2 linked regions of the Homo sapiens genome follow. The protein of the gene in region 1 purifies or fractionates together with the protein of each later gene. This does not show direct contact. Each region holds a gene or a part of one and is shown on either strand. Other genes may lie near its edges. The genes, in order: ZNF146 and DNAJA4.

What was found.
Region 2: the proteins of ZNF146 (region 1) and DNAJA4 purify together in Homo sapiens (affinity purification with mass spectrometry, with the first as the bait; one large-scale study listed by BioGRID). This does not show direct contact.

The regions. Positions count from the first base shown.
Region 1 is NC_000019.10:36,231,800-36,235,617, forward strand, and holds part of ZNF146 (zinc finger protein OZF), read left to right. Parts: intron 1-3,784; exon of another isoform or gene 3,785-3,818.
Region 2 is NC_000015.10:78,277,877-78,281,694, forward strand, and holds part of DNAJA4 (dnaJ homolog subfamily A member 4), read left to right. Parts: intron 1-331; exon of another isoform or gene 332-924; intron 925-2,168; coding exon 2,169-2,269; intron 2,270-2,368; coding exon 2,369-2,584; 3' UTR 2,585-3,818.

The sequences.
Region 1 (3,818 bases):
AAGGGCCAGGCACGGTGGCTCACATCTGTAGGCGAGGCGGCAGATCTCTTGAGCCTAGGAGTTCTAGACCAGCCTGGGCAGCGTGTTGAGACCCCGTATCTTTTTTATTTAAAAAAAAAAAGGCCAGACTCGGTGGTTCACCCCTGTAATCCCAACACTTTGGGAGGCCGAGGCAGGCAGATCACCTGAGGTCAAGAGTTTGAGACTGGCCTGGCCAACATGGTAAAACCCCGTTTCTATTAAAAATACAAAAACTAGCTGGGCGTGGTGATGCACACCTATCGTCCCAGCTACTCGGGAGGCTGAGGCAGGAGAATCGGTTGAACCTGGGAGGCGGAGGTTGCAGTGAGCTGAGACTGCACTCCGGCCTGGGCAACAGAGCGAGACTCCATCTCAAAAAAAAAAAAAAAAAACATACAAATTATGTGACTACAAATATGAACATATTTCTTTCTCTTTATAAAATTTTTGAATCTTGGCCTTTGATTATGAAATATTCTACTTATGTAGGTACTACTTATATAAACTTGAATTCAGTTTTCATTAAAATGTTTGTTACTTCTGCCTTTTTTCCTCTTCCCTCTGCTTGTCCATTACTTCATATTTTCCAGAGGAACTTACAAGTTCTCAGCAAATGATACCTTAAACATGGTTTTAGATTTTGCCGTCTATAGTCTGCATTATAATCCGGTTAAAAGGAAGGTCCATGTTTTATTTTTCTGATCAGTAGTTTGAGAACGCATGAGTTGCTGTTAAATAATCTATGAATTTTTTGTGTGGAAATACTGATCAGTTCTTTTTTCTTTTTTCTTTTTTTTTTTTTTCCCGAGACATAGTCTCCCTCTGTCACCCAGGCTGGAGTGCAGTGGTGCGATCTGGGCTCACTACAACCTCCACCTCCCGGTTTCAAGTGATTCTCCTGTCTCAGCCTCTTGAGTAGCTGGGATTATAGGAGCATGCCACCACATCCAGCTAATTTTTTGTATTTTTAGTAGAGACGAGGTTTCACCATGTTGGCCAGGCTTGTCTTAAACTCTTGGCCCCACAGTGCTGGGATTACAGGTGTGAGTCACCATGCCCAGCCATTCAATTATTTTTTCATATGAACATTTTTTAAATATAACAAATGCTGAAGGAATAGTTAAAGAATCTCTTATGTACCCCCCATGTGGATTGAATAATTAATATTTTGCCACGCTTTTGTATGTCCGTATCCATGTGTTTATTTTGTGTGCTGAGGCATCATGATGTTTTACTTCTAAAAAATTAAATATGTATTTTCTACCAAGAAAAGCAGCTCCTGGCCAGGCGTGGTGGCTCACGCCTGTAGTGCCAGCACTTGGGAGGCAGATACGGGCAGATCACCAGATGTCAGGAGTTCCAGACCAGCCTGGCCAACATAGTGAAATCCTGTCTCTACTAAAAATACAAAAATTAGGCGTGGTGATGCATGCCTGTAATCCCAGCTACTTGGGAGGTTGAGGCTTCAAGAATCACTTGAAGCCAGGAGGCCGAGGTTGCAGTGAGTCGAGATCGCACCACTGCACACCAGCCTGAAGGGGTGGGTTTCCCCTCCACAGCTGTGGGCGTTTCTCGTCAGGTGGAAGGACTGACTTGGAAAAGAAAGAGACACAGAAACAAAGTATAGAGAAAGAAAAATGGGCCCAGGGGACCGGCGTTAGGGAGGACCTGCATACGGAGGACCTCTCAAGAGGACCGGCCTCTTGAGTTCCCTTAGTATTTATTGATCATTATCGGGCGTTTCTCGGAGAGGGGGATGTGGCAGGACAATAGGGTAATAGTGGAGAGAAGGTCAGCAGGAAAACGTGAACAAATGTCTCTGCATCATAAACAAGGTAAAGAAAAAAGTGCTGTGCTTTTGATGTGCATATACATAAACATCTCAATGCCTTAAAGAGCAGTGTTGCTGCCAGCATGTCCCACCTCCAGCCCTAAGGCGGTTTTCCCCTATCTCAGTAGATGGAATATACAATCCAGCTTTACACGGAGACATTCCATTGCCCAGGGAAGAGCAGGAGACAGATGCCTTCCTCTTATCTCAACTGCAAAGAGGTCTTCCTTTTTTACTAATCCTCCTCAGCACAGACCCTTTACGGGTGTCGGACTGGGGGACGGTCAGGTCTTTCCCTTCCCGCGGGGCCATATTTCAGACTATCACATGGGGAGAAACCTTGGACAATACCTGGCTTTCCTAGGCAGAGGTCCCTGCGGCCTTCTGTAGTGTGTTGTGTCTCTGGGTACTTGAGATTAGGGAGTGGTGATGACTCTTAAGGAGCATGCTGCCTTCAAGCATTTGTTTAACAAAGCACATCCTGCACAGCCCTTAATCCATTTAACGCTGAGTTGACACAGCACATGTTTCAGTGAGCACAGGGTTGGGGGTAGGGTTACAGATTAACAGCATCTCAAGGCAGAATAATTTTTCTTAGTACAGAACAAAATGGAGTCTCTTATGTCTACTTCTTTCTACACAGACACAGTAACAGTCTGATCTCTCTTTCTTTTCCCCACACAGCCTGGGCGACAGAGCAAGACTGTCTCAAAAAAAAAGGGAGCTCTCCCATATAACAAAATACCGTTTCACACCTTAGAAGATTAACCATGTTGTCCTAATATTAGACTACCCAGTCTATGTTCACATTTTTCCAATTGTCCCCAGAATGCCTTCCATAGTTTTTTAAAATTACAGAATGTAATCAGGGTTCAAGCTTTGCATCTGGTTGCTCGCCACCACGCCCGGCTAATTTTTTGTATTTTTAGTAGAGATGGGGTTTCACTGTGTTAGCCAGGATGGTCTTGATCTCCTGACCTCGTGATCCGCCCACCTCGGCCTCCCAACGTGCTGGGATTACAGGCGTGAGCCACTGCGCCCGGCCAGCCAGCATCTTTTGTCTTCAGCTGCAGAATGGTGCTGCAGGTCTTACCATATATGTGGGTTTAATCTCTGATTTCCGTATAGCAGCTCATTCCTGTCATCTCATTTGCTGAATGCCCCTGAGCTCTGATTAAAATTCTGCAGGGGATAAACTTCCATTTCATATGAAGGTGTGTCCAGTCCTTTGTTCTCGTGACTGGACAGTGCATGTTCAACTGTTCCTTACACTTTTTTTTCAGCCACCATCCTTTATTCCTTTTGAATAAGGGAATTTGTACCATTTTCTCCTTATAATTTTAATGGGGTTTTGGGAGGAAGCACTTGTTGGTTGATCTATTCCTTTTCTTAGAAAGATGAGCATTATTTAGCCAGGTATGGTGGTGCACACCTGTAATCCCAGTTACTCAGGAGGCTGAGGCTAGAGAATTGCTTGAACCCAGGAGGCGGAGGCTGCAGTGAGCCGAGATCGCACCACTGCACTCCAGCCTGGATAACGAGCGAAATTCCGTCTCAAAAAAAAAAAAAGAAGAAAGAAAGATGAACATTATTTTTCTTCCTTAGCATCCCAGGTAGACTTTCTAATTTTCATCTTTTTCTTCTATTTGGCAATTCTTCATTATTTGTTATACAACTTGCTAAATTCTGAAATGGAAAGGTTATTTTTCAAGAGTACTTTCAGCTTTGTGGACCCATGAATGTTAATTTTCTACCTAGATCACCTCAAGTAGGGTTCCCTTCTCATAATTTAGTTGGAAGCATTAATAATATAGATTATTTTCATATTGGGAGATGGGCTACCAGAGTTAATCTCAAAAAATTTTATTGCTAGTAATGGGAAAATTAACAAATAAAAGTGATAGTAATATAAAGGTAAAATGAAGGGCTTACCATATGGCAGCCATGGTTCTGGGCACTTTATGAA
Region 2 (3,818 bases), on another chromosome or scaffold:
AAACCTGCCGTTGGAGAGTTCTTTGGGGATTTGTTTGTCCTTTTTGTTTTGTTTTTGTTTTTACTTTGTTCTCTTTTGCACCCTCTCTTTTCTTCACCCCTCTTTTGTGTTGGCTTATTTCTTGTTTCTCCATTTTCTCTTCTCCCTCTTCTTCCTCTTTTCTGCTGTTGAAATGCCTTCTTCCCCAGAGCCTTTTAGCCTGTTATGAGCATTGCTGAGGATTGGATTAATTAAAAAAGTGATTTTGGAGCCACACAAGGGTGTGATGGCCCTGCCTGCAGGCAGGTATTTACCTGCCGGGAGAGCCTAACTCGTGGTCTTCTTCTCTTACCTGTAGTTTTCCATGCTTGGTCAGTTTCCCAGCTCCCAGCAAGCTAGAAGCAGAAGCATGGGGAGTAGGGCTTGAGAGCAGCAAGAAGCGACACCTGATAGGAATGGGGAGACAGAAAAACCAGTCATATGTAACTTAACGAAGGGGATATGTTCTGAGAGATGCATTGTTTGGCGATGTCGTTGTGGTGTGAACACCATAGAATGTACTCACACAGACCTAGATAGCATAGCCTGCTACACCCTAGGCTGTGTGGCATAGCCTGTTGCTCCTGGGCTAAAACCTGCACAGCAGGTTGCTGTACTGAATACTGTGGGCAGTTGTAGTACGATGCTGAGTATGTGAGTATCTGAACATAGGAAAGGTGCAGTAAAAGTTTGGTGTAATCTTTGCAACCATCTTCATAAATGTTGTTGACTGAAAGGTCACTATGCTGTGCATGACTGTATTTCTTTTTTTTTTGAGACGGAGTCTCGCTCTGTCGCCCAGGCTGGAGTGCAATGGCGTGATCTTGGCTCACTGTACACTCTGCTTCCCGGGTTCACGCCATTCTCCTGCCTCAGCCTCCCAAGTAGCTGGGATTACAGGCACACACCACCATTCCTGGCTAGTTTTTCTATTTTTTTTTTTTTTTTTTTTTTTTAGTAGAGACGGGGTTTCACTATGTTGATCAACCTGGTCTCGAACTCCTGACCTCGTGATCCGCCCGCCTCGGCCTCCCAAAGTGCTGGGATTACAGGCGTGAGCCACCGTGCCTGGCCATGACTGTATTTCAAAAAAAAAGAATAAACAGGAACACAAAAAGCCAGCAGCCTGGAGCAGTTTAGCTAAGGGGTTGCTGTCCTGCACAGTCAGTAGGCTCTGAAGGCCATGTCTGAACCACAGCCCTGCCTGCGAATGAATCTCAAGGATAGTCATTGGCTTACTTTATTTTTAAAACCTCCTCTTTAAAGATTTCCTCTTGAAGAGACAGCTCACTTTCTACATAGTCCCGTATGGAAGTGGACTGCTGAAGAAATTAGTGTTTCCATTCCCCTCCACCGTCTCCCCCATTTTTTCCGAACATTTCTTTCTGTCTTTGTCCATTTTCATCGCTGAGCTGAAGAGCATGCTTTATCAGAAACCCTTTTGTCCCTTTCCTTTTCCATGCTTAGAGGGAAGTTTCTGACTTGGGAGAACGCCTTAGAGTTCTTGGGGTCTGAACTCCTCTGATGCCTTCCAAAGTCACGTAGCTGTAAGACCCAGCGGGTGCCAGCCGGGAGGGTGACTCCAGCTCAGCAGCATGTATGGAAGTGCATTGTGACCATGAAGGAGTCTGCCAGTGGCCAAGCCACCTAGTGAGCTCCCTACCAAGGAACCTGGGTGTCACCTGCAGGTGGCCAAGAGCCAGTTTTTATGCCAGGCAGGGGACTGGTTGGACTCTATTGAGGCTTCTTCCTGTCTGTGGGGAGCACTCCTGTCCCCCTCGTGGTAGGGATACCTGTCACCCCACAAAGAGGCAGGGTGACAGGTGTTGGCCCCATTTTAGGCAGACTTGGGTGTCATGACTTCTAGTTCACTTGTTTTAAACCTACCTGTGATGGCAGCTGCACCATGCTGCCCTCTTGACACACTGCTGGAGCCCAGAGCACAGGCCAGAGTCTCAGCCTGAGCCCCTTCCCCAGGCAGTACCTGACAAGGATACCTGGGATTGGGGCCAGCTTTCCAGTCAGATGCCACGTTTCCTTTGCCCACTGCCACGGGGCACTAGGGCCTGCCGCAGGCTCTCCCATGAGGGAGAACGACCTCTGCAGGCCCCTCTGCCTTCCTCCTTCCTAATTGACCCTTTCTCTGGCAGGTGAGGTGATAAAGCACGGGGACCTGAGATGCGTGCGCGATGAAGGAATGCCCATCTACAAAGCACCCCTGGAAAAAGGGATTCTGATCATACAGTTTTTAGTAAGTTCACTATGTTTCATTGTCATGGACATATTATTAAATGCCTTAATTGGAAGGGGAAAAAACAGCCACCTTTCTTTCCCACCTCACCCTTTACAGGTAATCTTTCCTGAAAAACACTGGCTTTCTCTGGAAAAGCTTCCTCAGCTGGAAGCTTTACTCCCTCCTCGACAGAAAGTGAGGATTACAGATGACATGGATCAGGTGGAGCTGAAGGAGTTTTGTCCCAATGAGCAGAACTGGCGTCAGCACAGGGAGGCCTACGAGGAGGACGAAGACGGGCCCCAGGCTGGAGTGCAGTGCCAGACGGCATGACGTGGTGCGGGGCAGCGTGGCCCCACCGGACTAGCACATGATGAATGTAAAGTTGGCACAATGAAAATGACATCGCTTTAATGGCCTTGTGTTTGGGATGTCCTGTGTATGTGTTCAGCATTCTTAATTGCTGAGTGTCTTTTTGGCTTTTCTTTTGGTTGTAACTTAAGTTATAGCTTAATTTATATTTAAATGTTTTAAGTATAAATCACCTCTAGTCTGCATATGGAATCTGTTCATTTCTATTTTCAGGATATACTTTTGAGATGTCAGTGATTGCACCAATACTTTGTGCTTCTAGTGGCTTTGCCATAATTCAGTGTCACCAATAAGGCACAGCCCAGTTAGCAGCTTAGCCCCCCTAGCAAACCCCAAGGCACAAAGTGGGCATCCTGACTCATCTCTAGGTCTGTGGTTTCTCCCCTCTTCCCTTGGCAGAGTTATTGAGGGCATGATCTCAGGGCTGCTAAGATAACATTTCTGAGGATTCTAGATGATCCTCTTAAAGAATAAAAGCACATCCGTGGATCGGACATGGCTGCATGTGCCTGCTTAACAGGGCCAACTTAGTTCCTACTGTTCTGTGCCCTTCAGTGGATGGAACGTGAGTGTCTGATCATCTCTCTTGGAAGTTTTCTGAACCTTCCAAGCTCTGTGGTGAGGACAAACCAGTGTTTGAATCATATGCTGATAACTGTTTGCCTGTGACCCTCACACCTTGTTCTTCAGGGTTTTAATGATTTTCTGTTGACAACTTTTGCAATGCTTTCCCACCAAAGTGCTTACTTGTAAAGAAAACTAAATCCTTCTGTGTCCCCGGCAGCCTCAGTGCAGCAACAGAAGCCAAGGGAGAATGCTGCTGGTTTGGCCCATGGCACAGCCAGCTTCTCTGACCAGTAATCCGGGGTGACTTGAGGGTCTGCAAAGGCATAGAACTCCCCAGTGTTTTCCACCTCATTCTCCCAGATTGAGCTCCCTTCCAAAGGATCGTTCCTCTCATTGCACAGCCATATTACAAAGGGTTTCCTGCTCAAGTGATGTTTTGGTAAGAACTTCGCTGAGTTCCACTGTGGATTACAGTTTGTATGGACTACTACTGTAAATTATAGCTTGTTTGGAGGGATATTAGTCATTATTTTATTCATGACAGGTAGACTACAATTCGAACTTAGGGTTACCTCAGTCTTTAGCCATTACTGCTTATTTCTTTTCCCCAAGTCACAAAAAACTTGTA